Linked DNA regions of Homo sapiens. The protein of the gene in region 2 interacts with the protein of the main gene of each other region in a pairwise test. Each region holds a gene or a part of one and is shown on either strand. Other genes may lie near its edges.

Evidence for each region.
Region 1: the proteins of GPR42 (region 2) and TF interact in binary tests that used the Homo sapiens proteins (3 or more experiments, as listed by UniProt).
Region 3: the proteins of GPR42 (region 2) and BNIP3 interact in binary tests that used the Homo sapiens proteins (3 or more experiments, as listed by UniProt).
Region 4: the proteins of GPR42 (region 2) and MS4A1 interact in binary tests that used the Homo sapiens proteins (3 or more experiments, as listed by UniProt).
Region 5: the proteins of GPR42 (region 2) and SERTM1 interact in binary tests that used the Homo sapiens proteins (3 or more experiments, as listed by UniProt).
Region 6: the proteins of GPR42 (region 2) and KCNA1 interact in binary tests that used the Homo sapiens proteins (3 or more experiments, as listed by UniProt).
Region 7: the proteins of GPR42 (region 2) and LEPROTL1 interact in binary tests that used the Homo sapiens proteins (3 or more experiments, as listed by UniProt).

Annotation. Positions count from the first base shown.
Region 1 is NC_000003.12:133,773,238-133,777,775, forward strand, and holds part of TF (serotransferrin isoform 1 precursor), read left to right. Parts: intron 1-2,195; coding exon 2,196-2,380; intron 2,381-3,811; coding exon 3,812-4,001; intron 4,002-4,538. UniProt on the Homo sapiens protein: Transferrins are iron binding transport proteins which can bind two Fe(3+) ions in association with the binding of an anion, usually bicarbonate.
Region 2 is NC_000019.10:35,369,641-35,374,500, reverse strand, and holds GPR42 (G-protein coupled receptor 42), read right to left. Parts: upstream 3,434-4,860; 5' UTR 3,383-3,433; intron 3,153-3,382; 5' UTR 3,142-3,152; coding exon 2,101-3,141; 3' UTR 1,539-2,100; downstream 1-1,538. UniProt on the Homo sapiens protein: G protein-coupled receptor that is activated by short chain fatty acids (SCFAs), such as propionate. Hence may play a role in the regulation of whole-body energy homeostasis and/or in intestinal immunity.
Region 3 is NC_000010.11:131,966,511-131,969,918, reverse strand, and holds the end of BNIP3 (BCL2/adenovirus E1B 19 kDa protein-interacting protein 3), read left to right. Parts: exon of another isoform or gene 1-264; coding exon of another isoform or gene 265-292; intron 293-1,349; coding exon 1,350-1,395; 3' UTR 1,396-2,235; downstream 2,236-3,408. UniProt on the Homo sapiens protein: Apoptosis-inducing protein that can overcome BCL2 suppression. May play a role in repartitioning calcium between the two major intracellular calcium stores in association with BCL2.
Region 4 is NC_000011.10:60,467,973-60,471,713, forward strand, and holds the end of MS4A1 (B-lymphocyte antigen CD20), read left to right. Parts: intron 1-277; coding exon 278-496; 3' UTR 497-2,780; downstream 2,781-3,741. UniProt on the Homo sapiens protein: B-lymphocyte-specific membrane protein that plays a role in the regulation of cellular calcium influx necessary for the development, differentiation, and activation of B-lymphocytes.
Region 5 is NC_000013.11:36,672,098-36,677,299, forward strand, and holds the start of SERTM1 (serine-rich and transmembrane domain-containing protein 1), read left to right. Parts: upstream 1-1,922; 5' UTR 1,923-2,087; intron 2,088-3,247; exon of another isoform or gene 3,248-3,330; intron 3,331-5,202.
Region 6 is NC_000012.12:4,914,519-4,919,446, forward strand, and holds the end of KCNA1 (potassium voltage-gated channel subfamily A member 1), read left to right. Parts: 3' UTR 1-3,738; downstream 3,739-4,928. UniProt on the Homo sapiens protein: Voltage-gated potassium channel that mediates transmembrane potassium transport in excitable membranes, primarily in the brain and the central nervous system, but also in the kidney.
Region 7 is NC_000008.11:30,100,882-30,105,419, forward strand, and holds part of LEPROTL1 (leptin receptor overlapping transcript-like 1), read left to right. Parts: intron 1-1,016; coding exon 1,017-1,092; intron 1,093-3,418; coding exon 3,419-3,605; intron 3,606-4,538. UniProt on the Homo sapiens protein: Negatively regulates growth hormone (GH) receptor cell surface expression in liver. May play a role in liver resistance to GH during periods of reduced nutrient availability.

The DNA.
Region 1 (4,538 bases), on a different chromosome or scaffold from region 2:
CTGCAAACTCCGCCTCCCAGATTTAAGTGATTCTCCTGCCTCAGCCTCCCAAGTAGCTGGGACTACAGGCGTGCACCACCACGACCAGCTAATTTTTGTATTTTTAGTAGAGACGGGGTTTCACCATGTTGGCCAGGATGGTCTCCATCTCTTGGCCTCATGATCCGCCCACCTCGGCCTCTCAAAAGTGCTGGGATTACAGGTGTGACCCACCGCGCTCAGCCCACATGGGCTCTTTTATCACAATTTGTGTGTGTGTGTGTGTGTGTGTGTGTGTGTATGTGCATATTATAGGTGTGTGTAGGAAAAAGAATGTTAGAAATGTACCAATTTTGAAGGCGTAGACTATGAAATTACAAATGCTTCAAAATTTTCTTCCCAATACTTACGTGGCATTTTATAAATTTCCACCAATAAACGTGTATTATTTTTATTGAAAAAGCATATTTTTAACATGCCCTTCTAGATGCCCTCCTAGCCAGACTGAATCACCTCCCATTTGATTTTTCTTAATTTTCTACCTTTAGGTTCTGGCTCATTCATTAACATCAATTTCCATTCATAAGTCCTCACAAACCCACTTTTCCTCTTGCCTGAGTGCCTCACATACCCTACTGCCTGAGATGGTTCCAGAGGCGGTCTCCTCTCTCCCTTAGAAACACCAGGCACACACCTGCCCCCAGTCTCGCCTGCACTCTCCTTTCCTCCCGCAGAGAGGCATTCCTTTCTCCTCCTCTCATCCTACACACACTATAAGAGACAACTGAAATCTTGCCTCCTCCAGCCAGCTTCTTAATTCATTTGTTCTCAAAGCCCTGGTTTGAGCTCACACAGCATCTAGAGTGTTTTACAAAATATAAAATATTATTATCCCTGCCCTGAATTTTTTGTTTTGGTATGTGTGTTATTTTCCCCTCCAATAAGATTGTGCCTTGGAGAGGGCTGAGAACATAGTATCATAGATAAATGAATAAAATAACATAAAATAAAATAAAAATACATATACCCTTTGAACTAACTATTCCACTTCTATGTAAGCACAATTATATGCCAGTAACACTCATTTTAACGCTACTTTAGTGGCAAAAAATTGTAAACACCTCAGATGCCTATTAAAAGAGGAATGGTTTAAAGATACTATTATAGCCACACTATGAAATATAATACAGTAGTTAAGAAGAACGAGCTTGATTTGTATGTACTGACAAGAAGAATCTATAAGGTATGTAAACAGTTGAAAAAAAAGCTACAGAGTTTTACATTTGTCAAGATCTAACACTAAACAAAATTAGAAACATGTGAAATCCATATACACACGTAGAAAAATACATATAATGAGCCGTGGATGGAAACTCGCAAATGTGATATTAAAGACTAGCACTATAAGACTGAGTGAGATTTGGAGAGTATAGGAAAGGAGGCTTTTAGTTAATATAGAGAGATATTCAAAAATTTATGAGTGTGATCTCATGTATTAGTTATTCGGTTAAAGAAACAAAATTAAATGAAAAATACATTTTTAAAAAGGTTGCAATTCTGAATTATGGGAGAGAAATAAAAATTAGCAAAACATATTTGCAAAGTGGCTCAGGAGGAAGGAGCTGAAACCCTAAGAATGGGTGAGTTTTTTTTTTTTTTCAGAGACAATACAGAAAAGAAGAGGCAAAGGGGCCGAGATGGGATACAGACCTGTATCACACAGGTGTGTGCACATTCTCATTTAGAACTGGAACAAGGGAGTCAGATTTAAAATTCTGGTGCAGATTCCAAAGGTGTTCTCTGAGGAAAAGTTCTTTTGTTTGGAGATGCCATGTGTTACAGCACAGAAATTGATCAACCTGGCTTAGAGCGTCACATTCTTCCTCTGTTGGAGCAAGAGGTACAGAAGGAATTGGAATTTAGTGGAATTGAAGATCTTTTTGAACAGCATCTGCAGAATGTAGTTCATTCTCACCTGGCTGGGTAGGGAAGGTTGGAAGGGGATGGTCAATAATCATTCCTGGTCACTGTGAGTCTGGCATCACCTTGTAGACCACATGGGTGTCTCTTCCTGTCCACATCACTGTAACCCCAGTGTGGGCACTTCTGCTGGCGAGAAGGCCCAGGTTCTCTACACACCACTGAGTCAGTTCCATCTCCCCAGCGGGGCACCTTGACCAAAGCCATCAGCTGAACCACCTTCTTCCTGTCCCTAGGAAAAAACCCTGATCCATGGGCTAAGAATCTGAATGAAAAAGACTATGAGTTGCTGTGCCTTGATGGTACCAGGAAACCTGTGGAGGAGTATGCGAACTGCCACCTGGCCAGAGCCCCGAATCACGCTGTGGTCACACGGAAAGATAAGGAAGCTTGCGTCCACAAGATATTACGTCAACAGCAGGTATGGACCAGCCAGGTCCTCCCACCTTTTCTTCCTAGATGGCCATAGGCTATTCGGGGGGAGTTTACAACAAAGTGCAGCCATGACTCCAGCACTTTCTTTTTGAAAACTAGAATTCCATGCATTGTGCATTTCATGCCATGCATTGTGGACTAGAGTATCAGGGTTCAAATCACAGCTCCACAGCTTCCTAGTTGTGCCATCTTGGGTATGTTACATAACCTCTCTATGCCTCAGCTTCCTCATATATAAAATTGTAATAATAATATTTTTACCTACTTCTCAGTTAACATGAGTATTAAGTGAAGACATGCACCCAAACGGCATAGGAAAATTCCATTTCCTATAGGACGTGCTCAAAATATGTTAGCTGTGTAATTATGGAACTAGACCTCTCAGGCCCAGCTCTGCTTCTAGCTCCTGGTCACTGGTGATTAGATCTGATCCATGTACTCTTGGGACTAGGAATCTGCCTTTCTGCTCCCCCTAACCTTGTTCAGGGGTACCCTCATTTCCCCTACTCCTGTCCTTCCCGAAAATGAAGAAGACAGCTCCTGTTTCCCAGCGCTTGTTGATACGAGTCATGAAGAGTGGATTTCTGTTCCTCTTGCCTAGGCAGACTGAGCACTGTTCTCAACAGTCTGAAAAACACAGGACCCTTGCCCTCGGAGAGCCTGCCCTCTGGGGGAACAACCACTCAGGGCCAGCCTTGTTGAAGACAGGGGCTGCCTGAGTATTCTAATCCTAAAGGCCCCTCCACACACACACATCACCTTCCTTTTGGGCATAGCTGCCTGCTGTTGATTCACCATTACCTTTTTTTAAAAAAAATAAGAGTATATTTGAAGTCCTTTTAAGGTACATGACAATAATAAGCATTTAACATACATTTCCTAGCTGCTATATGGAAAGTTCAACATTTTGCAGTCATCATTTCACTTACAACCTTTGGAGATCTGGAGAAGCTGAGTGGCTTGCCCAAGAAAGGATTCAAAATGCAGTCAAACATGAACTTTTAAGAACTACCTCTGCCACTCCTCTGGGAGGGTTCACATTTAACATCTTCTTTGACAATAACATCTGAAGGGACATGTTATTGTCCTCTCATTTCCTATAAGCAGCCCCCAGTGAAGGGCAATGAAGTGGGGAAGAGAGGTCAGAGTAGGCAGGCATGGGTGTGGGTGGGAGGGACTTATCAGAGGAAGGTGGGACCAGGGACCCTATAGATGATTTTGGGGGCATCATGAAAGCATGCAGCTGGGGCCCTAAGTGGATAAATGGCAGATAAAGGAGGTGGAAAATTCCCAAGACATACTCCGTAGCTTCCCTTTTTCCCCAGGGCTGGTTCAGAGCTTTCAGACTCTTCTCATCCATGTGTTCCCAGCTGCTAAAGACCACAAGGTCCTCACGGACTTTCTGTTCACTTGACAGCACCTATTTGGAAGCAACGTAACTGACTGCTCGGGCAACTTTTGTTTGTTCCGGTCGGAAACCAAGGACCTTCTGTTCAGAGATGACACAGTATGTTTGGCCAAACTTCATGACAGAAACACATATGAAAAATACTTAGGAGAAGAATATGTCAAGGCTGTTGGTAACCTGAGAAAATGCTCCACCTCATGTGAGTAGGAGGAACAGCATGGGGAAGTGGCAACCAAACATGGTGGTGAGTGCTGGGATGGTGGGTGGGTACAGGAGGGGTAGGCTGTGGCCCTTGGGATAGGACAACATGGACAAAATGAAATGGTGAGTGAACAATCTAAGCCCGGCATGTATGACAGGCTAGACTGTAGGGGCAGATAGTAAGGGGATACAGGCTCAGAGCACTAAGGTAGTGAACTTATTGGGTATAGAGAATTCCATCTTATTTCTAAGAAAAGGACTGGGTTTATGTGTACATGCCATTGCTCTGCAGTAAACTTTTGATTAGAGTTGCCTTGTCCAATATGGTAGCCACCAGCAAGATGTGACTATTTAAATTTAAGTTAATTAAAATTAAACTAAATAAAAGATGTATTTCTTCAATCCCACCTAGCTGCATTTCAAGTGCTCAACAGCCACATGTGGCTCCATATTGGTCAGCAAAGAGAATGTTTGCATCATCACAGAAAGCTCTTTCAGACAGTGCTGCTCTAGACAGCTTCAACAATGATAGGTT
Region 2 (4,860 bases):
GCTACAGTTCTGTGAGACAGGCTCTATCAGTATATTAGATGGGACCATTTCTGCAGCTCAGACATTCTCAGCAGCAGCAATGTTGATCCCAAATAGGTGAAAACTAGTTCTTGGGGAACAACAACAACAAAAAATCTCACAATGGTTTGTGGCTTTCTTTTCCTTCTTTTCTTTCTTTCTTTCTTTCTCTCTCTTTCTTTCCTTCTTTCTCTCTTTCTTTCTTTCTCTCTCTTTCCTTCTTTCTTTCTTTCCTTCCTTCTTTCTTTCTCTCTCTCTCTCTTTCCTTCTTTCTCTCTTTCTTTCTCTCTTTCTTTCTTTCCTTCCTTCTTTCTTTCTTTCTCTCTCTCTCTTTCTTTCCTTCTTTCTCTCTTTCTTTCTTTCTCTCTTTCCTTCCTTCTTTCTTTTCCTTCCTTCCTTCCTTCCTTCCTTCCTTCCTTCCTTCCTTCCTTCCTTCCTTCCTTCCTTCCTTCTGTTTTTTGAGACAGAGTCTCACTCTGTCACCCAGGCTGGAGTGCAGTGGTGTAATCTCGGCTCACTGCAACCTCTGCCTCCTGGCCTCAAGTGATTGTCCTGCCTCAGCCTCCCAAGAAGCTGGGTTTACAGGTGCATGCTGCCATATGCGGCTAATATTTGTACTTTTAGTAGAGACAAAGTTTCACCATGTTGGCCAGGCTGGTCTCAAACTCCTGACCTCAAGTGATTCTCTTGCCTCGGCATCCCAAAGTGCTGGGATTATAGGCATGAGCCACTGCGCCCAGCCAGTTTCTGTCTTTGTAAAGGGCCACAACACATAAACCGACAGTGTGTTGGTTGCACTGAAATTGCATAAGCAGGCAGAGGAATGTGCTGTGTAGGAAAGATGTATATCCAAAGAGGCTTCTGAAGGGGACAAGGATGTAAAAAGTTGAAGAGATCCTGCATTAGCTAAGATCGAGGAGCATCGGGTGCCCACTGTGAGTCACCTGCCCAATCATTGACTCCAAGTATCGTAATCTATACTTTTCAAGAAGTCTTCTTTACTGGGGAGAGGATGCACTCACACAGATACTCACTGTGCTTTGCATTTACTTCTGTTCCTTATCACAGCCTGTTTGCATTTGTCCTGCTCAGACAGCCTCATCTGACTGGGCCAGGTGACCACAGGTGACACACAGATGGAGAACAGCAGAGTGGCTTAGGGGCATGGGTGTCAGAGTCAACTGACACCAGCTTCTGGTCCCACTTCAATCGCCCACCAGCTATGGGATCTCGGGTAGGAGATGTCACCTCTCTGGGCCACTCCTTCATCTGAAACTGGGGATAATGCTGGTACCTCTCACAGGGCTATTGAGAGATAGAAGGAGATGATGTGTCAGGCCAAGTCCTTTAGACAGGGCAGCTGTTATTTTCATCCCTGCAAGCCAGATCCTCTCCCAGCATCCAGGCATCCTGGTGTTTGGCCCTTTTCCTCCAGAGTCTGGTGTTTTCTCCTTCCATCCACCAGTCCCACCCGGCCCAAGCACACCACCAGAACAAAACAGGAGAAGAAGGAAACACTGTTCTCTTTTGCTTGCTTCCACATTTATTTGGGTAATTTTTCTTCTGTCATTGTTCATAAATGTCTCTGATGATCCACATTTATTGAGCAATGGGAACTTTCTGGAAAAGGCACTGTGGGAGCAGAATGCGGCCTCATCCCTGGAGCCCTGTCTCCCCCGCTCCTGACTCGCTGGCTGGGAGCAGCTCTGAGGATGGGGTTCTCCCCTCTCCTGCCCCTGCCACTCACTGGGCAGCCCCCTCAGACCTGGGCACTGCTCTTAGCTCCTCTGCCACCCTCAAGAAAACACAGGAGCTGCCTGCTGCTATGAGGACCTCATTGTTCTCCAGAGCAGCCTCTCACCCTGACCCCTTCCCAGAGCCCAATCCATAGTGTGTGGGTGGATGGGGATGGAGGTGAGATCGAGAGCTGGGCTTTAGCGCGCATACCCTTAGGGAGGCTAGATGTCTACTCTGCCCCCAAGCCCCATCGGGCCCCAGCTCGCCACTCCAAGTCCCTCCTGGCGTGAGCGAGGAAGCGCCCTGAGGATGACACGCCAGCTACACCCTCCTCCCCCGGAGGACCTAGTTTTCAGCACAGGCCACCTGGCCACCAGTTCCACAGCCCTGTGAGTGTTCACTGGTCTTTCTTTCAGCTGGTCGGTCCGCTCTCTGCTCCTCCCCTCCCTTCTGCTCCTTCAGCTCCATGCTGCTCTCCTGCTGCCACTGGCCCCAGAGCCCACACAACCTCCTCAGCAGCTCATGAAAGTCGGCTTGGAACCCGGAGGAGGAGAAGTAGTAGACAAAGGGGTCGACACAGGAGTTCAGGGTGCTGAGAAGCGTCACGTAGATCCTCCACACCGGGCTTTCACCGCAGATATAGCCCACGACATGGGACACGTTGTAGGGCCCAAAGCAGACAAGGAAGTTGAGCAGCGTGGCCGCCACCAGCCCCGCCACCCTCCTCTGCCGGCGGTGGCTGCCCCCTCTGCCGAGGATCCACACCAGGCGGCTGTAGCAGTAGCTGGTGATGATCAGCGGGACCACAAAGAGGACCACAGCCATCTCCAGCCGCACGGGCAGGAGGATGGCTAGCTGGTCCTTCCAGAACTCCAGGTAGCAGGTCCCATTGGTGCCCTGGCTGTGGGAGATGTCCCCTGAGAATTCTATGACGTAGACCACGCTGCAGTGAGCAGAGGCCAACAGCCAGCAGGCCACACTCACCAGACCTGCCTGCCCCAGCCTCGGCCGGGTCTTGTACCACAGTGGGTGGGCCACACTCAGGAAGCGTTCAATGCTCACAGCTGCCAGGAAGAGGGCGGTGAGATAGATGGTGGTGAAGAAGATGAATCCAGAGAGTGGGCAGAGGATGAAGGGCAGGGGCCAGTGCATGCCATTGGCTGCCTCCACCATGCGGAAAGGCAGGAACAGCAGCAGGAGCAGGTCCGAGGCGGTCAGGTTGAGCAGGAGCACGTCCACGGCCACCGGGCGGCACCGCAGCTTGCCCACGAAGACCACCAGGGCCAGCAGGTTGAGGGGGAGCCCCACCAGGAAAGTGAGAAGGTACACCGAGAAGACGAACCAGTGATTGCCGGAGAAGTAGGACTGGTCGGGGCCTGTATCCATGGTGGTGGCCACTGGTGAGAGAGAGTAACATGGAGTTGGTAGTGGGGGCCCTAACGGCCTCTGGCCAGCAGCATCTCCCCTAAAAGGGCACGAGGTCACTACGCCCACCCCTCTTGTCTCTGGGTGCCTTCCAGGCGGGGTCAGCCTGCCTGTCTTCCTGAGCATGCCCTGTCCCCTGTCCCTTCCCCAGCAGAGAAGCACCAAGGTGCTCCTCCACCCAGCCCCTCGGGCCCAGGCTCACCTGCTTCTTTGAGACCCCAAATGCTCTGCCGCACAGCACCTTGCTGTCTCTCCAGACCTAGTGCAGTTGGCTATTTATCCGGCAGAACTGATAAAGACCTGGCCGTGCCCATGACATCACTCACTGTTGAGCAGTGGCACAAAGATGCCTTGAGCTCCGTTGCCAGGGCTGGTCAGTATGCAAAAAGGGGAACAAATTCCACAACTGCGTGCCTCCCTCCTTGCGCAGCCTCAGCTGGGATGCTCCAAACAGGCCCCAGCTGACGTCTTCTTCCCCTCCCCTCTCTTCCACTTGAATTTTGTCTGATTCTCTAGAATGGCACTTATCCAGTTTGCCTTTTAAGGGCACAAAGCATGAGCCAGTGACAGACTGGACTCCGTGAGGTCTGTTCCTTCCTGACTTTGTGATGTGGGGGAAGAGATGTGTCTCTTCTTCCTCCCCTACAGAACAGGGATTGTCATAGTACCTGTACCATATTTCAAAGCATGAACACATGCAGATTAAAACATATATACAGGTAGATTAAAATGTTAATAATATAGGTCAATTGCTTTTTGAAAATATTTATTTTAGATTCGGGAGCACATGTGCAGGTTTGTTACATGGGTATATTGCATAATACTGAGGTTTGGGCTTCTATTGAACCCATTACCAAAATTGTGAACATAGTACCCAATAGGCAGTTTTCCCACCCTTGTCCTCCGCCCTCCCTCCCCCACTTTGGAGTCCCCACTGTCTATGGTTTCCATCTTTAATGTTTGCGTGTACCCATTGTTTACCTCCCACTTAAAAGTGAGAACATACAGCATTTGATTTTCTGTTTCTGTGTTAATTCACTTAGGATCATTCACTTAGGCCTCCAGCTGCATTTATGTTGCAGCAAAGGACATGATTTCATTCTTTTTTATAGCTGCATAGTATTTCGTGATGTGTATGTACCATTTTTTCTTTATCTAGTCCACCATTGATGGGCACCTAAGTTGATTCCATCACTTTGCCATTGTGAATAGTGCTGTGACAAACATACACATGCAGGTGTCTTTTTGGTAGAATGATTCCATTTTATGAAAAATGACATTGATAATTTGGTAGGAATTGGGTGGAATCTGTAGATTGCTTTGAGCAGTATGGACATTTTAATGATATTGATTCTTCTAATCCATGAACATGGAATGTTTTTCATTTATTTGTGTTTTTTAGTTCTCCTTGTAGAGATCTTTCACTTTCACTTCCTTGGTTAGATGTATTCCTAGGTATTTTATTTTTGTGTGTGGCTATTGTAATTGGGATTCTGTTCTTTATTTGGCTCACAGCTTGACAATTGTTGGTATATAGTAATGCTACTGATTTTTATACACTGATTTTGCATCCTGAAACTGCCAGTCATTTATCAGGTCTAGGAGTATTTTGGAGGAATCTGTAGGGTTTTCTAGGTATAGAATCATATCATCAGTGAACAGAGATAATTTGACTTCCCC
Region 3 (3,408 bases), on a different chromosome or scaffold from region 2:
CCGCGCCTGGCCTTTCCTGGCTGCTTATACTCACTCACCCTGCAGAAAACACAGAGACCAGGCAGGCGCCGCTGTGGGTTCTGAAGAGCGTTCGCCGCAGCGGTGGTGAAGAGCCAGAGCGGGAAGCCAAAACGGCTCCTCCTCGGGCTGGTCCCAGCCTCTCAGCGGGGAGGAGGGCTCTAGTCCTGGCGTGCAGACAGTGTTCTGTGGCTGCCGTGTGTTGGACAGACTGGAAAGACCGGAATGCCACTGGGGGCAGGTGGGTTAGGTAGGTTGGCCAGAGGGCTCACATCTGGGGTTGAAGGAAACGGGATAAAAGCCACTGAGTTTCCTGGGCCGGGACCTGAGCGCTGCCCGTGTCTCCACCTCGCCCTCCCGTGTGCGTGGCTTTCTCCTAGCTCTTGGGCACATTCTCACGTCCCCCCCATAACCCGTCACCTTCATTTCTGCTGGTGCTTTTGGGAGTCAGACCTACAGACTGCATCAGCATCACCAGGCAGTTTGCTTTCTGGAGCCTTTTCCAGAACTGTCAAGCAGACTCTGGGGGCAAGGCCTCGGGATCCTCATTTTAAATACAAGGTTTAAGCCCTTCGTTTCAGGATGGATTTCTGCAGCCACTACTTCCCAGCTACTGTCCTTCGTCCTGCCCGGGTTTTCAGAGCCTGATGCTGCCACTGGCGACCCACACCCCCTCAGCTGCTTTTCAGAACCACACGATAAAATCTGCCCCGAAAGCTGCTGCAGCACTGTCTGCGCTCACAGTGCCCACCACACCACCGCCCACAGGCCAGGCCAGCCAGGCTTCCGATTCTGCCCTTTCCTGGAGACCCATCCTCCTCCCTCCGGGAGTGATGCCCGCTGGTCAGCTGGAGCGAGCCTCTCTATTGCCGAAAAGCCTTTTCTGACACTCCTGCATCTTTAGTTTGGGACATCTCTCCCACTACCAAACTTAAACCACATGAGGGCAGGGGCTTCATTTTTAAGCAGTTGGCTTTGGTGAGGCTGGTGGTGATGAACTAGCAACACCATCTTGCCCTGGTAGGTGACTTCCCCCAGCACTGAGTTGGAACAAAGCAGAAGCTTTCTGTGTGGAAACAGCATTCGGTTTGGTGATCCTTCTATGTAAGAATACGATCTGATGTTTTCTAAGTTAATTAATACAAAATACATATTGATAAAACACTAGATAAAAGATCACAGATAGATTCATTACAAAATTTTTATAATGGGTATAAAATCACCAGTCCCCTTGCATAAGCTCTAACCACAGTGAGCTACCCTGTTTCAGCTGTAACACAGTCTCCTGTGAATCACAAGATACATTAACTACTGATAATTTTTCTGTGAAGGATCTATATTGGAAGGCGTCTGACAACCTCCACCAGCACCTTTTGATGAAGAACTGGAGTCTGACTTGGTTCGTTAGTGGATTACTTCTGAGCTTGCAACATAGCTCACTGAAGAGCTGTTAGATCCTGGGGTGGCCACGTCACTTGTGTTTATTTGTTCTGTAAATGCTGCGTTCCTAATTTAGTAAAATAAAAGAATAGACACTAAAATCATGTTGATCTATAATTACACCTATGGGATCAATAAGCATGTCAGACTGATTAATGTCTACTGTGAAAATTTGGTAGTAAATTTTCATTTGATATTAGATATAAATATCTGAATATAAATAATTTTAATATACTAGTCATGATGTGTGTTGTATTTTAAAAATTATCTGCAACCTTAATTCAGCTGAAGTACTTTATATTTCAAAAGAATGAATAACATTGATAATAAAATCGCTACTTTAAGGGGTTTGTCCAAAATAAATATTGTGGCCTTATATATCACACTATTGTAGAAAGTATTATTTAATTTAAATGGATGCAGGTTGTCTACTAAAGAAAGATTATATATAACTATGCTAATTGTTCATAATCAACAGAAACCAAGATAGAGCTACAAACTCAGCTGTACAGTTCGTACACTAAACTCTTCTTGCTTTTGCATTATAAGGAATTAAGTCTCCGATTATTAGGTGATCACCCTGGATGATCAGTTTTCTGCTGAAGGCACCTACTCAGTATCTTTTCCTCTTTATCACTCTGCATTGGTGAATTTAATCCTCTCCTTTGTGTTCAACTTTTGTGTGCTTTTAAAATCAGCTTTATTCTAAGCAAATCTGTGTCTACTTTAAAAAACTGGAAATGGAAAAAAAAATAAATCTTTGCCAAATCCTTCAGATTACTGTATTTACATATGGTTTAAAATCAGACGTCATGATAGCTTCTTAATGAAACCAGGACTGGTCCCTATTTTGACATTATCTTTCCTACAGCAAACTTTTTAGAAAGGCTGCCTGCCGCCTTGATGTTTCACCTTTCCACGCTTAATTCGGGTGTTAAATCTAACGTTTTCATTTGTAAAAATCTTTGTTGATGCTACCTTGGAAGCAGTCATCTCTCAGTCTTACATTTGGAGAATGTGGATGGCATGACATCAGAATTCCTTTATATAATTTAACTTCAGAATAGTCTGAGATCATCGAAGCACGATGGTCAAGGGAATTCCGTTTTTGTTTTAGAGCAAATATGTTTGCTGTTTGTCTTTCATCACAAACATCAGTGGAGTTTCAGCACCTTACAGAGCTCAGTGAACCCCCTGGTCACCATCAAAGTTAGCACACAACAAAGCCAACCACGTGTCCCCCTCACAGATGACAATGGCTGAACTCTGAGTGAAACCACCTGTATGGCCGGGCACAGTGGCTCACGCCTGTAATCCCAGCACTTTGGGAGGTTGAGGTGGGTGGATCACCTGAAGTCAGAAGATTGGCCTGGCCAACATGATGAAACCCCGTCTCTAATAAAAATGCAAAAATTAGCTGGGCGCAGTGGCACGTGCCTGTAATCCCAGCTACTTGGGAGGCTGAGGCAGGAGAACCGCTGGAACCCAGAAGGCAGAGGTTGCAGTGAGTGGAGATCATGCCACTGCACTCCAGCCTGGGAGGGAGAACGAGACTCCATCTCAAAAAAAAAAAAAAAAACAACCAGTTGGAGGTACTAAGCTCTGGGACTGGGCCAGTGTGATGGCTCCACACCTGTAATCTCAACACTTTGGGAGGCTGAGGTAGGAGGATCACAAGTCCAGAAGTTCGAGACCAGCCTGGGGGAGCATAGCAAGACCCTGTCTCTACACAAAATACAAAAATTAGCCTCGTGTGGTGGCACACACCTGTAGCCCCAGCTACTTGGTAGACTGAGGCAGGAGGATCCCTTGAGCCCAGGAGTTCAAGGCTGCAGTGAGCCAGGATAGTGCACACGGCCTGAGCAAGAGCAAGACCCTGTTTCAGAAAAAACAACTCTGGGACTGGAGTGCTTTAGACAGATGGGAGACCAAGAATCAAGTTTTCTGGAG
Region 4 (3,741 bases), on a different chromosome or scaffold from region 2:
CTCTATTACTGCAATGTTCTTTTCCCAATACCACGTGGTCATTCCAGGCACTGTGGTCAATGTCTGCTGCCCTTGAAGATTTATTCAGACTTGAGTTTTAATAAATGACTTGATAAGGATATAAGCACCTGCAAAAAAATTTTGGCATTTAAAGGCATATAATAAATGACATAAGTAGCATAAAAACCAGGAGGTATTTGATAAATGTTTGTGGAGATTGTTGACAAAGGTGTCAGTGGTAAAAGTAAAGAATGGTTTGTTTAATTTTCTGTTTTAGAACATAGTTCTCCTGTCAGCAGAAGAAAAAAAAGAACAGACTATTGAAATAAAAGAAGAAGTGGTTGGGCTAACTGAAACATCTTCCCAACCAAAGAATGAAGAAGACATTGAAATTATTCCAATCCAAGAAGAGGAAGAAGAAGAAACAGAGACGAACTTTCCAGAACCTCCCCAAGATCAGGAATCCTCACCAATAGAAAATGACAGCTCTCCTTAAGTGATTTCTTCTGTTTTCTGTTTCCTTTTTTAAACATTAGTGTTCATAGCTTCCAAGAGACATGCTGACTTTCATTTCTTGAGGTACTCTGCACATACGCACCACATCTCTATCTGGCCTTTGCATGGAGTGACCATAGCTCCTTCTCTCTTACATTGAATGTAGAGAATGTAGCCATTGTAGCAGCTTGTGTTGTCACGCTTCTTCTTTTGAGCAACTTTCTTACACTGAAGAAAGGCAGAATGAGTGCTTCAGAATGTGATTTCCTACTAACCTGTTCCTTGGATAGGCTTTTTAGTATAGTATTTTTTTTTGTCATTTTCTCCATCAACAACCAGGGAGACTGCACCTGATGGAAAAGATATATGACTGCTTCATGACATTCCTAAACTATCTTTTTTTTATTCCACATCTACGTTTTTGGTGGAGTCCCTTTTGCATCATTGTTTTAAGGATGATAAAAAAAAATAACAACTAGGGACAATACAGAACCCATTCCATTTATCTTTCTACAGGGCTGACATTGTGGCACATTCTTAGAGTTACCACACCCCATGAGGGAAGCTCTAAATAGCCAACACCCATCTGTTTTTTGTAAAAACAGCATAGCTTATACATGGACATGTCTCTGCCTTAACTTTTCCTAACTCCCACTCTAGGCTATTGTTTGCATGTCTACCTACTTTTAGCCATTATGCGAGAAAAGAAAAAAATGACCATAGAAAATGCCACCATGAGGTGCCCAAATTTCAAATAATAATTAACATTTAGTTATATTTATAATTTCCAGATGACAAAGTATTTCATCAAATAACTTCATTTGATGTTCCATGATCAAGAAAGAATCCCTATCTCTATTTTACAAGTAATTCAAAGAGGCCAAATAACTTGTAAACAAGAAAAGGTAACTTGTCAACAGTCATAACTAGTAATTATGAGAGCCTTGTTTCATAACCAGGTCTTCTTACTCAAATCCTGTGATGTTTGAAATAACCAAATTGTCTCTCCAATGTCTGCATAAACTGTGAGAGCCAAGTCAACAGCTTTTATCAAGAATTTACTCTCTGACCAGCAATAAACAAGCACTGAGAGACACAGAGAGCCAGATTCAGATTTTACCCATGGGGATAAAAAGACTCAGACTTTCACCACATTTGGAAAACTACTTGCATCATAAATATATAATAACTGGTAGTTTATATGAAGCAGACACTAAGTGCTATAGACACTCTCAGAATATCATACTTGGAAACAATGTAATTAAAATGCCGAATCTGAGTCAACAGCTGCCCTACTTTTCAATTCAGATATACTAGTACCTTACCTAGAAATAATGTTAACCTAGGGTGAAGTCACTATAATCTGTAGTCTATTATTTGGGCATTTGCTACATGATGAGTGCTGCCAGATTGTGGCAGGTAAAGAGACAATGTAATTTGCACTCCCTATGATATTTCTACATTTTTAGCGACCACTAGTGGAAGACATTCCCCAAAATTAGAAAAAAAGGAGATAGAAGATTTCTGTCTATGTAAAGTTCTCAAAATTTGTTCTAAATTAATAAAACTATCTTTGTGTTCTTTTCTGCAACAGATGATTCCAACATGGGTGTTTGTCTATTCTTCTTTACTCTTGAAACATTAGACCATGGGAGGCTCTTACAGCCTTGAGTTGATATTTATACAACCCAAATCTAGGTTTGAACGGTGAGGTGTCAGGTCATCAAATATTCATGTCTATATAGTCTTACACAGGTTCTCAAAAAAAATGTTCATGGGATAGGTCATTGATAATGGATTCCTTATTCTGAGAACTCCAGACGACTGAAATATATGAGAGAAGGAAAAGGACATAGTAGGAGCAGGCCTGAGAAAAAAATGAAAGTCAGAAATCTTTAAAAAAATACAAGATCTTATTTCTATCTTATTTTTTCTCCTCTTCTGAAATATATATGAGGATTCCTCTCCAAACCCATGGTTTCTCTAAGAATTTTGAGTCATTTGTATGACCTCAAATAATTAGTTTTAGCTGACCTCACATAACTCCTTATAATAGGAGACATCTTTAATGTCTGCTATTAAAGAAGGATGAAAATTCCTATGACCTTCTCCCCGATTATCCCTTTGGCAATATAGAGTCAAATAATAACATTGACCAATAGTAAACATGCTTTGCCAAGAAGTAGAAGATATATTCTCTAGCCTTAGTTTTTCCTCCCAATTTGCATTTTTGTAAAAATAATGTTGTATCCACAAAGGAAATAAACTTTAAAAACCCAAGTGCACTCATTGACTAGGAGGCTGACGTAACTTATTTTCATTTTCTTCTGGTTTTCTTATAATCTTTGTTTAAAATAAGGTGATAAACCATCCCAGTTTGTCTGAGTCTGAGGGATTTCCTGGGATACACGATTTTCAATGTTAAAACCAAGATAGTCCCAGGCAAACAGGATAGTTGATTATCCTACTTCATAGTAATAGATTACTCACTTACAATCACTGCATAATATTTACTTTTTACATGTAACAGTATATCATAGATTTTTCCTTATTGATACATAATTTCATAAGCATCACTTAATTTCAACTTAGGATTTTATGAATCAATATAAATTTACCATTCCTCTATTATTGGATATGTAGGGTATTTCCTTTTCTTTCTTTATACAAATCACTTTTGGAGCACAGAAATCATGAGCAAGATACATGTTTCCTCTTATTATTCAAAATGTAGCTTTACATTTAAAGTCTTGTCAACATTGACCAGTAGGAATTACTAGCACCTGTTAAAACCCAGAAAATTTACCTTTAATTTCACATCAACAAGAGAATAGTCAAAGATCCAATACACAGAAATAGTTACTTCAGATTCATTTAGCTTGAGTTCATTTAAGAAATCTGATTTGTTTTAAATTCTTGGTGTATAACATAAAACACTGATGGAGGGGTTCAAATCTGAAATTTTCCTAGGTTAAGTCTTCAATCCTTTAGTGAGCTTCCTTTTATGGAAAACTTGGTTGTGTGTTCTGAGCTAAAAAGTACCAAGTCATAAATGAATATGATAGAATCATGTGGTGGCAAAATCAAAGCAAAGTTACAATTATCCTCTATTGACCCCAGCCTACTCAGCAGTGCAAAATGCTGAGAAAGAATAAATAAGTTGTCTACCCTTAGAACTTACTACCTGGCTGGAGAAAGAGAAATTAGTTCATCAGGTACCTGTTATGGGTAAAGCATTTTGTTAAG
Region 5 (5,202 bases), on a different chromosome or scaffold from region 2:
GCTGGGCGTGATGGTGGGCACCTGTAATCCCAACTACTTGGGAGGCTGAAGCAGGATAATTGCTTGAACCAGGGAGGTGGAGATTACAGTGAGCCGAGATCATACCACTGCACTCCAGCCTGGGCGACAGAGCAAGACTCCTCACAGAAGGATCACATCAGGCACAGAAGGATCCACATAGAAAAGATTCACACCCACCCACAATTGCCCTGGAGAAGGAAGGGGAGAGACAAAACAAACAAACAAACATGTAGAGTATGAATGAACCAGACAATAGGGTTGGGGCCTAGGAATCTTATGCACAAAGAAATTTTGAGGACCACTGTTTTGAAGGTCAACAGTTCTAACTGCCCCCCCATACACCTTAGTGTTTCAAAAAGTGAGTTGTGAGAACAACCAGTGATATTCAGAATGATTTTAGCATGGAAGACTTATGCCTTCATTTCATTGTGCATTAAAATATTAAATACAACTGGTATCTCACAAACCAATAATTTCATAGATATTATTGCTTACGATGAAGCCAAGTAAAAATCTAAGGTAAAATTTACTAAGTGCATAATGGAGCAGACTGTAGATGGATGTAAGGTAACTCATGAGAATGGCACATGAACAGGTGAAATTCAGGAAGCCAATCCAAGTGTGCCCGGAGGGAAGTGGTTCTCTGAATCTGCCCTCTTGACAACACAGCTCATTCCATCCTCCTGCATTTTACATCAGGCACAGAAGGATCCACATAAGAGAGATTCACACCCACCCACAATTGCCCTAGAGAAGGAAGGGGAGAGACAGAGAGCCTTTACTTATGTACCACGGAGCTTCAGAGTTAAGCCAGGTGCCCCTGCCTATCTCTACGTGGAGAACAATTGAACATGGGTGGAAGTAGCAGGCTCCTAGGAGCCGGGCCCTGGTGGGTGGCAGTATACGTGCATGTGTTGGTGGTCACTGAGACTTGGGTGGCCTGATTCTGTATTGTGCATGATTTGCTTTTCTGGCCACTAATAGGTCTCACGGTGAAGACAGCAGAACCAGATGGAGTAGGGGCTCAAGGAACAGGTAGCCACACCAACACTTCCCAGGAGTTCAGCCCTTTACAGGCCACAGAGCAACAATATTGTTGAATGTCAGAGTGAAACAGACCGCAGCCACCAAGTGATCGAAGTCTCTCATTTTCCAGCTGAAAAACAGGAATACAGAGAGAGAGTCTTCTGGTCAAGGTAGCAGCACTGACTGGTAACTGAAGTTGGTCGGATCAGTTAAAGCCTCCTTTTCCGGAGTTCTGTTACGATATATGACTCTCTACGCCAGTTCCCTAGTAGGGACTCATGACTGACTGTCTCCCTGGCAATGACAGAAACTCCAATCCTATTCGACTCATTTAATGATTTGGTATAGGATTCAGAGGCGCACGCGGCGAAGGCTGAGCAAGGGCTGTCTGTGGTTAAGCTCATCACAGGATGAGGCCATGCCCCACGCAACTCAGTCAGAGCTGGGCTTGCGATGATGCACCCAGAGTAGTTGTTTTGGGTGGGGGCTGCGAGGAACTCATAAAAGATGTAAGAGGAGGAGAAAGTTGGCAAGAAGTGGATGCTTTCATCTGCAGAGAAAGGCCCCTGAGCCCTAAAAAAACTGCCCTCCTCCCCACTCCCCCCTCCTCCCCCCGACACACAAAAAAGTTCACCCACTACACCTGCCTTCCCCAGATGGGCTCCCTGCGCAACGCCTCCTCGTCCTCCGAGATTTTCCAATGGTGGCGCAAGCTCCTCCCTCGCCCGAGCTGGGCGCCGTCCTAGAGCCAAGCGCCCGCTAGAGCCGAGACTAGGGGGCGGTGAGGAGTGGGACCCGCTCGCGGCCATTGGTTGTGCGGCCAGGAGGGGCGGAGGGACGACGCGCGGGCTGTGCGGGGCCGGCAGCCCGGATCCACTCCCGCTGCGCCTGCTGTCCGCCGTGCGCCCAGACTGCGCGCCGCGCCGCTGCGCCCAACATTCCCGAGGACGGCTTCGCGGGCGCGTATCGTCCAGACCGGAGCACCGCCCCACCGCTAGCGCAGGAGACCTGCCGGGGAAGTCGCGTGTCCTGACCTGCAGGTCAGTGAGGGAAACTTGCAGGGTCCCGAGCTCTGGGGGTGAACTTGCCCTACGCGGAGAGCGCCCCACTCCTTGCCTGGGGCGGCCTCGGGTCCTGGAGGCGAGCCGCCTCCCAGACTCTCCCCCGAGATCTGGGCTCCCGGAGATGTGGCTCCTTTCTGAGAAACACCCCCAAATCTATCCCTTTTGAGGTGTCCTTACTGTCCCGAGAAGCAATCGCAGCCCGGCTCTCCGAGTCTTGGGGTGACTCCACGGGCTGCAGGAGGAGCCGCGAGGGGCCCTGAGTGCAATGTCCTTGGCCCCGTGTTGACCTGCCTCGGTCCCAGACACTGGGAACCGGGAAGGTCTACCCTCGCTCTGCAAGGTGGATTCCTCCATGCAAGTGTAGACAGTTCTACACTTTGCAGAGTGTGTCTAGGTGCCTTCTGTTTGCTTTTGCCTTTGTGGTGTGTGGAGGGTCATTCTTGGGTTTGTTTTGCTCCTGTCTGATTTTCTAGGGTCATTTGCGTCCCTTCTCGGGAACGGGGACTCGCCATGCGCACACTGACAGCTGGCTTTGCACCTGCTAAGGCGCTGGAGAGTCTTTTCGCCCGTCTTAGGGTGGCCCTAAATCCGGGGAAGTTTTATGTGGCGCTGAACACTTGCGTTTCCCAGGGGCGTTTTCCCTAGCTCCCGGAAACCCAGTAGGTAACTGCGCCAGCGACCCTTCCCCTCTTCCCGGGTCTGATGAGACACTGGAATCCTGCCTTTCCCTGTCGAGGTGTGCGAATGATGGGCAAATTGCTTCAGTTCTGATTTAGGAAAGGGATATGTAATGTGCCCTCCTCCAGGGAGCAGAGGGATTCATTCACAGAAATATCTTGTTGAGGACCAGGATTGGGGCTATGCCTGCCCGCTTTCCTCCACCAGATGCCCGGGCTCCATCGGACTTGGGTTTGATCTCAGACTCTAGAGATGGGGTCTGTTTGTTAGTGTCCTTCATTTCCTCTCCCTGTTAATTTTTCTTCGGAAAATGTTCTGCTAAAGTAAGTACTTCAGTGTTCTTTGTGGTAAATGATGGGCTCCGATGTCTAGAGGACGTCTCAAAGCCATCGCATTTGGTACCGTCTGCACTACAGGTGCAAAGGGCGGGGAAACTGACAGCGTTACTGTCCTGGGGCGGACCCGCGGGACTACTCCCTAAGACGTTTCTCCTAGGTGCCTTCTCCTAGGTGCTTCCAGGATTCATTGTTCAGACAACAGCCTGTCAACAGGAAAAGAGGCACAAGTGACAGTCTTTTCTTAAAGGGTTTGTCTCTTAATGCAGTCTTGCGGAGCCCCATGCACCCTCTGAAAAAAACAATATTTAATTTGCTGAATTATACAACTAGTCTGGGTGTCTCAGCTTATTTGTGATCATGCCCATAGAGGTTCTTAAATATCTTTTTTGTAACTAAATTCTCTTCATTTTACTAAGTAGAGTAGTGTCTTTTCCCCCGCCACCACCACACTCAGAACACCGTTTTTAGTTGATCTGTAAAGCAAATTGCCTTTTGGAGGGCTTGTGAGTGAGGCTGCCTGGTCTCAGAGCCTCCCTCAGCCCATGCCCTAGTCACCTTTAAATGCTGGACATCGTAGGGCCGCCGAAGCCTCTGCCAACCTCAGAAGTAATCTGGAAATATTGAGATCCAGCACGTGGGTGGGATATTCCATTTTTGTGTTTTGGCTTTGAGGGGCTTATTATTTTTGATTCCTCTATATAAGGCAAAGTGCTTTGAAGAGCTGAACGCACACATTTATTGTTCTCATTAAAGAAACCTGTTGTAAGGTAAGATTGAGTCCATTCTCCCTTGCTGTTAGTTCGTTCAGTTCAACAGATTTTACTAGATGTCTACGATTTGGACAAGCACATCAGGGGTTAAGATATAAATAACTGTGTGATTGCATGTGGCATCAAATCCACGAGAGAGTTTATTTGCAGGTTTCCTGGGTTTCTTTTTCTTTTTTCTTGTTCTTTTTTAGTGAGGGCAGATGAAGAATGACAGAGCTGATTTGTAAGAATGACCAACCATACTAACCTTTAAGCAAACTTGGAGTTATACGTTCATTATAAAAAAGAAAGACTAACTCATCACAGGCAAAATTCTGATTCAGCCTCTATACTAGATAAAGTCTGAGCTCATTTGATGATCGTTCTTCTCTGGCTTACTCTTCTCCCTATACTTATATTACAACATTTTTGGGGGGTCCTTTTTTTGTTTAAAGTTTGTACAGTTTGTACGAGCATTTTTATACTTAATTAGTTATAATGAAGAAGTGAAAAATAAAATTATGGCTGAATTTTTGTGTTTTGTTCATCTGAGTTTTTAAAGTAGTAATTTAAGAATCTGAAAAAATACATTTCTGAATGGCCCTGGATGCCAGGCACTGTGTAGGTCCCACTTGCCTGGCTCATGGTACCCATAAGCCATTCAGTAAATATTTGTTAAATGAAACTAAAAGCCAAAAAGTAGTGCCACAGAAGAATGTTGTTTTCTTCAAATATCTACTTGTGGAGGCTATTATATTATATTAGTATATTAATACAAAGTATTATAGACCTAATTTTTATAGATTTCATGATTGTTTATAATGAGAGCTAAAAATAATAATAATAAAGGCTTTAAATTAGTTAATGGAATAGGGAAGCCAACAAGGAAGAAGTTCAAGCTTTAAGCCCACGAGTTGGCAGGATTCCTTTTAGCCAACATGTGTGCCTAGAGGATTCAAGCCAGAGGCTTAGATGAAGATGCCCTTGGTATGCATATGTGGCCCAACCTTTGATTTAGAATTCAGGAAGTCCATCTGTGCATTCACGGGCCATTTCAGGAGCCGGGCAACAGTCTACTGGGCCAAATTCTGTGGTCCCTTCTGTTCTGATTCTGATTTGTGGCAGATGTATCCCTAGGATACAACGTCTTCATGCTCAGTCTCATGACATAAAATGCGTCCTTCACGAGTTCCTTATGGATATAGGAAATAGTCATTATTTAGCCTTTACTAACTTTGGAAATTTTTTTGGAAAAAGAAAAAAAAGATAAAAGATGTCTGAGCCGTCAAACAGCCGTACACACTTTAACATATCTCTAAGCATGAA
Region 6 (4,928 bases), on a different chromosome or scaffold from region 2:
GCCTTTATCCTGTACCCACAGTGAACTGTAGAAAGTGCCTCCTTAACACAGCTGAGAAGTTAGGTAGCAAAAGTGGGGAAGGGTTGGGGCACAGACCTTTTGCTTTTTCTTTTTCCATTCTCGCTCTCTCATTTCACCACTGTGAGAAGACCACACCACCCTAAACCCTGGAGAGGAGAGACCCAGGAGGGTGCTGTCTCTCTGGCCATCTACTAGCATTGGTCCCTTTGACAGCCTGACGCTGGATGTGAACTGAGACCCATCTTTGAACTGGACATGAACTGTGAACTTGTTTTTTCCTCTCTCCACCAAAGCCAAGATAAACTTTTTGGGAATTTGTTTCCTATCGAGGGCCACTTTGGACACACAAGGCTTCCTCAGGTCCAGTGTAGTGCTCCTGGCACCTTTCCTTATTTTTTTCTCTGTCGGTAACAGCACTTTGCAAATCTCTCTGACGGTCCAGTCTTTTCAGGCATTGTTGTGGATGTGGGAACACTCAGTTCATAATAACCTTTCCTAGGCCTTCCCTCCTGGTCTACCCCTTTCAGATATTTCCTGATGCCCCTATGATCTTCCCACCTGGCAGTCACTTCACAGGTTGAACATCTAACTTCTGCTGCCCCCCCGTTACCCAGCCCAGAGAATGGTGGGGACCCTGTTCCTGGCTGAAAGAGAGCCACGGAACACAGGCCTCTGGAGCTCGGCAGCTGCCCACCGGTGGAGAGGTACTCACAGCCTTTCAAAGGACCCTGAGGTGGGGAATCTTCATTCTGCACTTAGCATGTGGCTGCCTGTTACCTGACATTCTGGCCCAGCTTCTTCTGAAAATCTGTCCTGCTTCTCCCACCCCTTTCCCCCATCCTGTCCTAGAACTAGCAGTGAGGCAATCACCCTAGAAACTCGAGTTACACCCATTCTGGCTAACTCGATTAAAAGAAAGAACATGGATATCTTATTTTCCTATGTGACTTTTGTGAATCTGTGAGATGAACACAACACACATCGTGGAAGATGAGGGGCCAAGAACTGCGCAGCATCCGACTACAGGGCATTAAACCCTCCCATGTGATGTCTCCTTCTCGTCTGAACCTTAACTCATTCTGGCGATTCCTTTCCTACTTGCTTAAAAATCCCCAATTAGGAAAAAAATGCCAACCTCCTCCCAGGCTTGGGGTTATCTTGATCTTTCATTTCAACGTTGAGGTCTAGTGCACACAGAACTTGAAACACCGCACTCTGTCAACAGCAATAATCCACTCAGTACTGTGGGATGGATGGGTTAATGGATGAGAAAACGGCACCAAGACTGACTTTGGGTATTTGGTATATTTACCGTGGTTACACTCTGGACTGGTTGATTCTTCTGCATGTGATATAGAAAAAAGTGCTGCATGCGGTGAACCTGTCAGTCTGGGACTGGGGGTGAGTTGTTGTTATGAGTTTGGGGTGGTGTGAGGAAAGTGAATGCTGCTTAGCTCATCTGTAGCTCATTGCAATGAATTCAGTAAGAATGGAGTACAGGGATTATCTGTGTAGCATAGGCATGCAATGTTTGACCAAGCTCTTACCCTCGCACTGTAATGTGTTGAAATGTCTTTGTAGACCTGAAGGTGCACTTAACAAAACTGCCTATTAAGGGATGACTATTTTTTGGTTTACTTATTCATATTTATTTTAGCAGCCTTTTTACCTTTTCTTCCCCTTCCTAGGCATGGAGCTGTAACAGCTCATGTCCTGACTATGTGTTTTCTCCAGAAGGAGAAGACTTCTGATGTGCTGATAGCTATAATTCCTCTCTTCCAGTCTATTGGGGCCCTAGTTCAATAGGGTGGCAATAGAAGAGTTGGTCACACCAGGGCTGTTAGCCATCCCAGAATCTCTGAAGTGGTTAACTCACCTGAAGTGATCTGAATCAGAGAGACCAAAGACATTCATTTCCTCTGTCCTCAGATTTCTAGAAGACAAATTCTAGCCAGGAAAACTTTCTGTTTTTGCATCTCCCTTTTCCCATTTGTGCCCAACTCCCCTTGCACTCCCTGGAGACTTGAGTTCTGATTTTCAGTTATATCAGCTCATTGGGAGTGTGTTCGTGGGTGAGCCTTGCAGAATCAGATAAACCAATAGCAAGTCCTTCTCCAGGATTCTGGCCAGTGGGCAGTCATTTCCCTGAAATGAATTGTAGGGCAGGTTTAGATTCCACTATGGTGGACGTGAAGCACAGGTGGTGTCACAATCTTGATTTGCTTGAGAATTAAAAAAATACATGTAAATGGTAAATGAGGAATACATTTTTTTAAAGTAGAAATTTGGTTTAGCCTATAAAAGGCCTTCTTCACATTGTGTATAGTTACACGTTTTTCAAATTAGGTACCATCTAAAAGTCAATAAAAATAGTTTCCTAGCCCTCTCATTTAATATAGGAGACCTCAAAACACATGCTTTTTAACAATTTTACATTTTAATTCTTAGTTTGGTAGATTGGATTGAAAGAAAGGAGAAAGAACATTAGCAGAAGGCACTTTCCCATTTTCTTCCAGGAATGACTTATTCCTGGGGTGGTGAGAATTGGTGGGTGGTAACCATCCATAGTATAAAATTGTTAGAAAGAATATAAACTGCCAAACAAGCATGTTATCTTCAGGCTTTTCCAAGCAAGAATGAAGTCTTTTGATGTTTATGTTCATTTTAAGAAGACAAACAAACTAAAATTTTAAGACCAGACACAACCCAAGTTGAATTGTGATCTCAGGAGGTGAACTCTCATTCACCATGTGGCATATTACTACCTGTATTTATATCATGGAATTTCAGGGTATATGTGAACATGTCTAGTATGACTCAGGTAAACCTTTAAAGAATGTATGTTACTTACCATTTTTGTAAAGAAGCAAACAGGAGCTGAATTGTTAACCAAAACTGTTCCATTACCTTGGGTCACTGTGCAAACTAATTCAGGGTACAGATATAAAGTTTAGAAGCCTTGGGATTAAATGCCAGCCTCTTTGCTCAGGCAAAATGACCCTGGGCTTTCTTGGGAAGTCCAGCATGTATGTAAGGGGTGAGGCCCTGCTGACCTCAGGGCTTTTCGCTTTAAGGAGATTAACCCTAGTCACAGTGATTTTCATTTAGGAGCTAACTAGGAGTTTACTCTTTATGACGTGAAACTTCAAAGAGTATAGAAAACTTTTGTACCACAATCAAAGAAGAAGAAATGGTGTATGGAAAGAAAACAAAACAAAACAAGAAATCTCTTGTAAAATATTCCAGGTCAAAGTTGTCTCCTCTCCAAACCTTGCAGAAGCACCTTTCTTCTCTTCAGCGCACTGTTTTGGGACTGTTTATGCAGCAGATGTAAGTAGACAACATGGACTCCATGTGACATGCCTCTAATAGTAAAGATAAAGTATTACTGAGGTTAAAAATAAAAATTGAGTAGTATTAATTTAAAGTGCACCATCAGGACAACAAACCATTTAAGCTGAAAAAACGCTATTTTATTTCTTGAGTTTGCCAGTTGCTTCCACCTTGAGTTAAGGACGTGTCTCATCTTCACCTACTGCGCATTCTCCCTTCTCTAACTGTGTAATATGTCAGGTCAAGGACATTGAATGTTATGAATTGAGAACCTAATTGATGCGCATAGTTTTCATCTATGCAATTTTACTTGCTTCTGTCACTTTACGATCTGTTCATATTTGGCATCAATTAAAGATACTTTTTAAGGATCTTATCAAGGAATATCTTGACTGGTTATTTGTCTCTTGTTTAACTGGTCTTTTGGGGGCCCTTTTCTTCCCTTCTTCTGTGGGGTCTCTTTAAATAGTGGGGTGAATCCAAGATCAGATCATGAAACAGACTTGTTTCCTTTGGCCCACGTGGTCTGTTTCTGCTGTCCAAGGACATATCCGGGGGTTACCTTTTGAGGATAAATTCAGTTTGGTCTCAGGTAAGATCCCAAGTGAAGACCACTGGAATTTGGCCTGTGGAAGTTAGAGTGGAAGGAGGATCAAGCTTTCAAAATAAAACAAGAAATGAGGCTCAGGGGAACAAAGTAATTGGTTATATCCACTTAAGTTGTTTTGATTTGAAACTAGTTTTTATGCACAGTCTGAGAAGCTTTGCAGGAAGAATAATTGTGGGTGTGTGTGTGAGAGAGAGAGAGGGAGACAGAGACAGAGACACGACTGTGTGTGTGAGTGTAACAGAGTTGTGGTCTGGAATCAACTGACTTGATAGTTGCAGTGTGGTGTTAGGAGTGATTTTGATGTGGAAAAACAACGTGGCTCCTATCCATTCTTTACACAGGCTTTTTCCATGTAGTTCTACATGTTCACATTTCTTTCTTTCTGTTTTTTTTTTTATGACTCCTTGTTGCATTTCCTTTTGATTCTTCCTGAGATTTAGATCTTCTGTTTTCCTCCTTGTGAATATCACATTTTCTACACATTCTTTTATGTCAGAGCAAACAGGGGGAGGTGCTCTTGACAGCGGTCTGTTACATGCTAAATGCACTGGGTGGTTGGTGCATTATCGTAGAAGAGTATTGCGCTGTGATAGGTTCATGTTACAAGATTTGCAGATGAATCTTGCTTTTGCTGTATAAGTTACCACTGAAAGTAGACTACAAAGCTGGGCAGGCTGCCCATGATTTTTCTCTTGTGGTCAGGAAACAGGCCAGGCTAAGCTCTGACAGAGAAGGTAAGAGACAGCCCAAGACACCCCAACAGCAGTGGATGTTTCTCAAAGCTCAGCCTTAGAATGGTCTTCTTAAAGCAGAAACAGATAGAACCAGGTAGCTGCTAGGAATGGGGCTATAACTGGGAGCTTTGTTGTTTACAAAGCTTTAAAAAGAAGTCAAGTCAGTTTAAAGGGGAAGAACAGAGAGCAGATATGATCTGAAGTCAGCTACTCTGCCACTGGGTGGGAAG
Region 7 (4,538 bases), on a different chromosome or scaffold from region 2:
CGTAGCTTTAGAAACTATATTTCACCTGTAGAATGCATCTATTGCTTATAATAACATGTTAAAGTAGTGATACCTCAGAAGGATTATAACCCATTGTCCTACAGATTTTCTAATGTAGATTAGGGAAGGAAACCCAGCTCTACTTTTGCAAACTATTTAAAGATTTGCAACAAAATTAATTGATTAAAATCATTAACTACAGATATTCTCGGGCATTTTTTCTGGTCAGTTTTATGCACATTGAGAGTGTATGTGCCAGAAACAGGAGCTGATTAGAAGAGGTTTTCCTATAGGATGAGGTTTCTAAAGTCCAGTAAACTTGAGCATGTGGAGTTTCTCCACATACTGCTTTTCAAAACTGTAGTGATCTGTGAAGTAAATATAATTCTAATGCCCAGAAGAGCATTGAGCCTGTGGACTTTGACTCTTTAGAAAGGGAACCAGCGTCTGGGGAATATGGTGGGGTACTAGCAGTAGGTTAGAGCTTTAAAAATCGGTGTCACTGGCTGGATGTGGTGGCTCACGCCTGTAATCCCAGCACTTTGGGAGGCCAAGGCAGGTGGATCACCTGAGGTCGGGAGTTCGAGACCAGCCTGACCAACATGGAGAAACTCCATCTCTACTGAAAATAGAAAATTAACAGGATGTGGTAGTGCATTCCTGTAATCCCAGCTTACTCAGGAGGCTGAGGCAGGAGAATCACTTGAACCTGGGAGGTGGAGGTTGTGGTGAGCCGAGATCAAGCCATTGGACTCCAGCCTGGGCAACAAGAGTGAAACTCCATCTCACAAAAAAAAAAAAAAAAAAAAAAAAGGCCAGTGTCACTTCATTTTGCCTTGAAGATACCACAGAAGACTTATTCTAAGACTAGATAACTTACACTTCTGATGGCAACTTGCTATTAATACGTTTTAGGGATTTTTGCTTCTGAGGTTACAGATAATGTTCAGACTGCTGATATTAATAAAAATAATATTTAATTTATATTCCTGTTGCACTTTTTATTTGCTTTGCAGCTTTGATTAGTTTGTCCTTTGGAGGAGCAATCGGACTGATGTTTTTGATGCTTGGATGTGCCCTTCCAATATACAAGTATGTAAAATGTTTGTCTTTCTGAATATTTAAGGGTAAAATTTTTCTACTTTTAAAGCTTAAAAAAATGTTTTTTTACTACTGTAAAAGTAATGCAGAGAAATGTTCACTTACCAAACACATACCTTTGTAAAAATCACCACTTAAAGTTTGTTTCTAAAGATTTTAGGACACCAAGATGCAAATAATATTTTTGGCTGTTACCTGCTCTTTCACTACTGCTGAGTCTGCAGTGGCAAGATAGCTACACAGTACCTCAGCCCTCCTGCTCAGTTTTTAACATCTATTGATAATACTAATTACAAGAAAATTTAAAATGTCTTTTTGCAAAAAAATACCATAAGCAGTCAAAACACAATTAAAAAAAAAGAGAGAGATGTAAACAATTACTTTCCGGCCGGGTGCGGTGGCTCACACCTGTAATCCCAGCATTTTGGGAGACCAAGGCGGGAGGATTGCCTGAGGTCAGGAGTTCAAGACCAGCCTGGCTAACATGGTGAAACCCCATCTCTACTAAAAATACAAAAAAATAGCCAGGCGTGGTGACACATGCCTGTAGTCCCAGGTACTCGGGAGGCTGAGGCAGGAGAATCGCCTGAACCCAGGAGATGGAGGTTGCGGTGAGCCAAGATCACGCCACTGCACTCCAGCCTGGGTGATAGAGCAAGACTCTGTTTCCAAAAAAAAAAAAAAAATTTCTTTCCTTAGGATAGAAAGAACTTCTCAAAGTTAACATTTTAACATTTAGATAAATTAGAAAAAGATGGACAACTCAATAGAAAAATAAATACAAAAAGAGAACTACAAATTGCTAATAAGCACATAAAAATATCCCCAGCCTCACTCAAAACTAAACAAAATCTATTGACAAAGACAAGAGACAGGGCAAGCAGGGACTCTTTTGTGCTGTGGGGGGAGTACACATAGATAGTTTTCTTGGAGATAAGTTTGCTTGTAGCTCTCAAAGTATATATTCTTTGAGTTAGCCCTTTCACTTGTTAGACTTTCTGATACAAACCCACTTGCAGATGTTTACAAAGATATATTTAGTGGGGGAGAGTATGGATGTTCAAGCAGCCTTGTTTATTTTTTGGTTTTTGTTTTTGTTTTGTTGTTTTATGCGTTATTTATAAGAGCCAAAAAAAATTCTGAAAACATCCTAAATGTCCTTCAAAAGAAAAATGGTTAAATTATAGTAAATCTTTTAATGGAAATACTAGGCAGTCTTAAAAAGAATGAGGAAGAGCTGTAAGTGCTAACATGTAAATATGTTCAAGACATATTGTTAGAAAACTGCAGGGACCCATTCATATTTTAAAGTTTATGTGGAAATGTGGAAGGGTCCCTGAGAAGCTCAATAGGAAAGTGGGCAAGAGGAGATTTGGAACTTTTAGTCTTTACTTTTTGTGCTTTTGTACTGTTTGAATTATTTTTCTTAAGCATATATTCAATTTTTAATTTTTTTTCTTAAAATATTTAGGAAATGGTCAGGCGCAGTGGCTCATGCCTGTAATCCTAGCACTTTGGGAGGCCAAGGTGGGTGGATCACCTGAGGTCAGGAGTTTAAGACCAGCTTAGCCAACATGGTGAAACTCCATCTCCACTAAAAATACAAAAATTAGCCGGGCATGGTGGTGCACGCCTGTAATCCCAGCTAGTCACGGGGGCTGAGGCAGGAGAGTCACTTGAACCCAGGAGGCAGAAGTTGCAGTGAGCCGAGATCATGCCACTGCACTCCAGCCTGGGCAGCAGAGCGAGACTCTGTCTCAAAAAAAAAAAAAAAAAATTTAGGAAACATAAGTAGCTGCTTATCATTAGCCTCTGTACAATCAGATCTCCACCATGATACCTATTTTATTCTATGGTAGTTTTAAGGGCATCTATTTCTTTTTAACTTTTTATTTTGAAACAATTTTAGATTCTGAAGAAGTTGTGAAAATCATACACAGAGGTCCCCTGTACCCTCCACACAGCCTGCCAGAGTCATAAGATCTTACATAACCATAGTTATCAAAACCAGGAAATGACTGTGGTACAATACAGTTAACTAGATGTAGAGTAAAAGCCATCTATTTTTATTGTGATAAATTCTATATTCTGACTGAAAGTGTTCTTACTTTTAGCTTCTTTTCTGTATTTTGATTTCTGTAATTTGGGAGTTCCTCGTGTTGTAAGGGAAGTTTAGGGTTGTTTCAGCTTTATGCTAAGGTTGGGTATCATCCATTAGAAGTCAAGCGATTGAATCTTGATTTTTTAAAAAGACCATATTTTGTGTGTAGGAAAATGACATAGCAAAAATTACATTAACTTATTTTTCTTTTTCTAGCAAATACTGGCCCCTCTTTGTTCTATTTTTTTACATCCTTTCACCTATTCCATACTGCATAGCAAGAAGATTAGTGGATGATACAGATGCTATGAGTAACGCTTGTAAGGAACTTGCCATCTTTCTTACAACGGGCATTGTCGTGTCAGCTTTTGGACTCCCTATTGTATTTGCCAGAGCACATCTGGTAAGTGAATATATTCTTCCATTAATGATTTTATATTGAACATGTGTTACATTTTTCTCAAGCAAAGTTTTTGTTAATGACATGAAAAGAGGTGAAAGACATAAGAGCCTAGAAGATAGAGATTAAAATCTCACTTTATTGTTTGTTCTTGTTAACTAATAAAAGTGATATTGGAGAACGTGGCTTGGATCTGCAGCAGCTGTTGGCTTGCTAATACTTTTTTTTTTCTTTTTTTTTTTTTTTTGAGATGGAGTCTTGCTCTGTCGCCCAGCCTGGAGTGCAGTGGCGTGATCTCACCTCACTGCAAGCTCTGCCTCCCGGGTTCACGCCATTCTCCTGCCTCAGCCTCCCGAGTAGCTGGGACTACAGGTGCCCGCCACCACGCCCAGCTGATATTTTTTGTGTTTTTAGTGGAGACGAGGTTTCACCGTGTTAGCCAGAATGGTCTCGACCTCCTGACCTCGTGATCCGTCCGCCTCGGCCTCCCAAAGTGCTGGGATTACAGGCATGAGCCACCGCACCCGTCTGGCTTGCTAATACTTAACTGTCAGAGTTGAGCATATCAACTCCCCCAGTGCTGAACAACCCAGGCCTATCCTGTAAAACCTAAAATATGGAAGACCTGAGAAGGTGCATGTGCTCTGCAGGCAGAAAAGCACTGAAGAGGGGAAGGGGCTGGCTACGGGTACTCAGTTCTTCCTCCCAAACTCACTGATCCACGCGCCTTCATCTCTGGGGAGGTAGAGAAGACAGCCATATGGAGAAGGCAATTGTTTTCCCACCCCTTCAAAAGAATGTACATGGGTGTGTTTCCATCTGTGATATGCTAAAATTTAATCTACTCTAGATAGATTTTTATATTAAGGAAGAGTAAGCACATTCCTTTATAAACAGAAACTTGTAGAATTTTATGCTGCTTCTTCATAGCCCAGA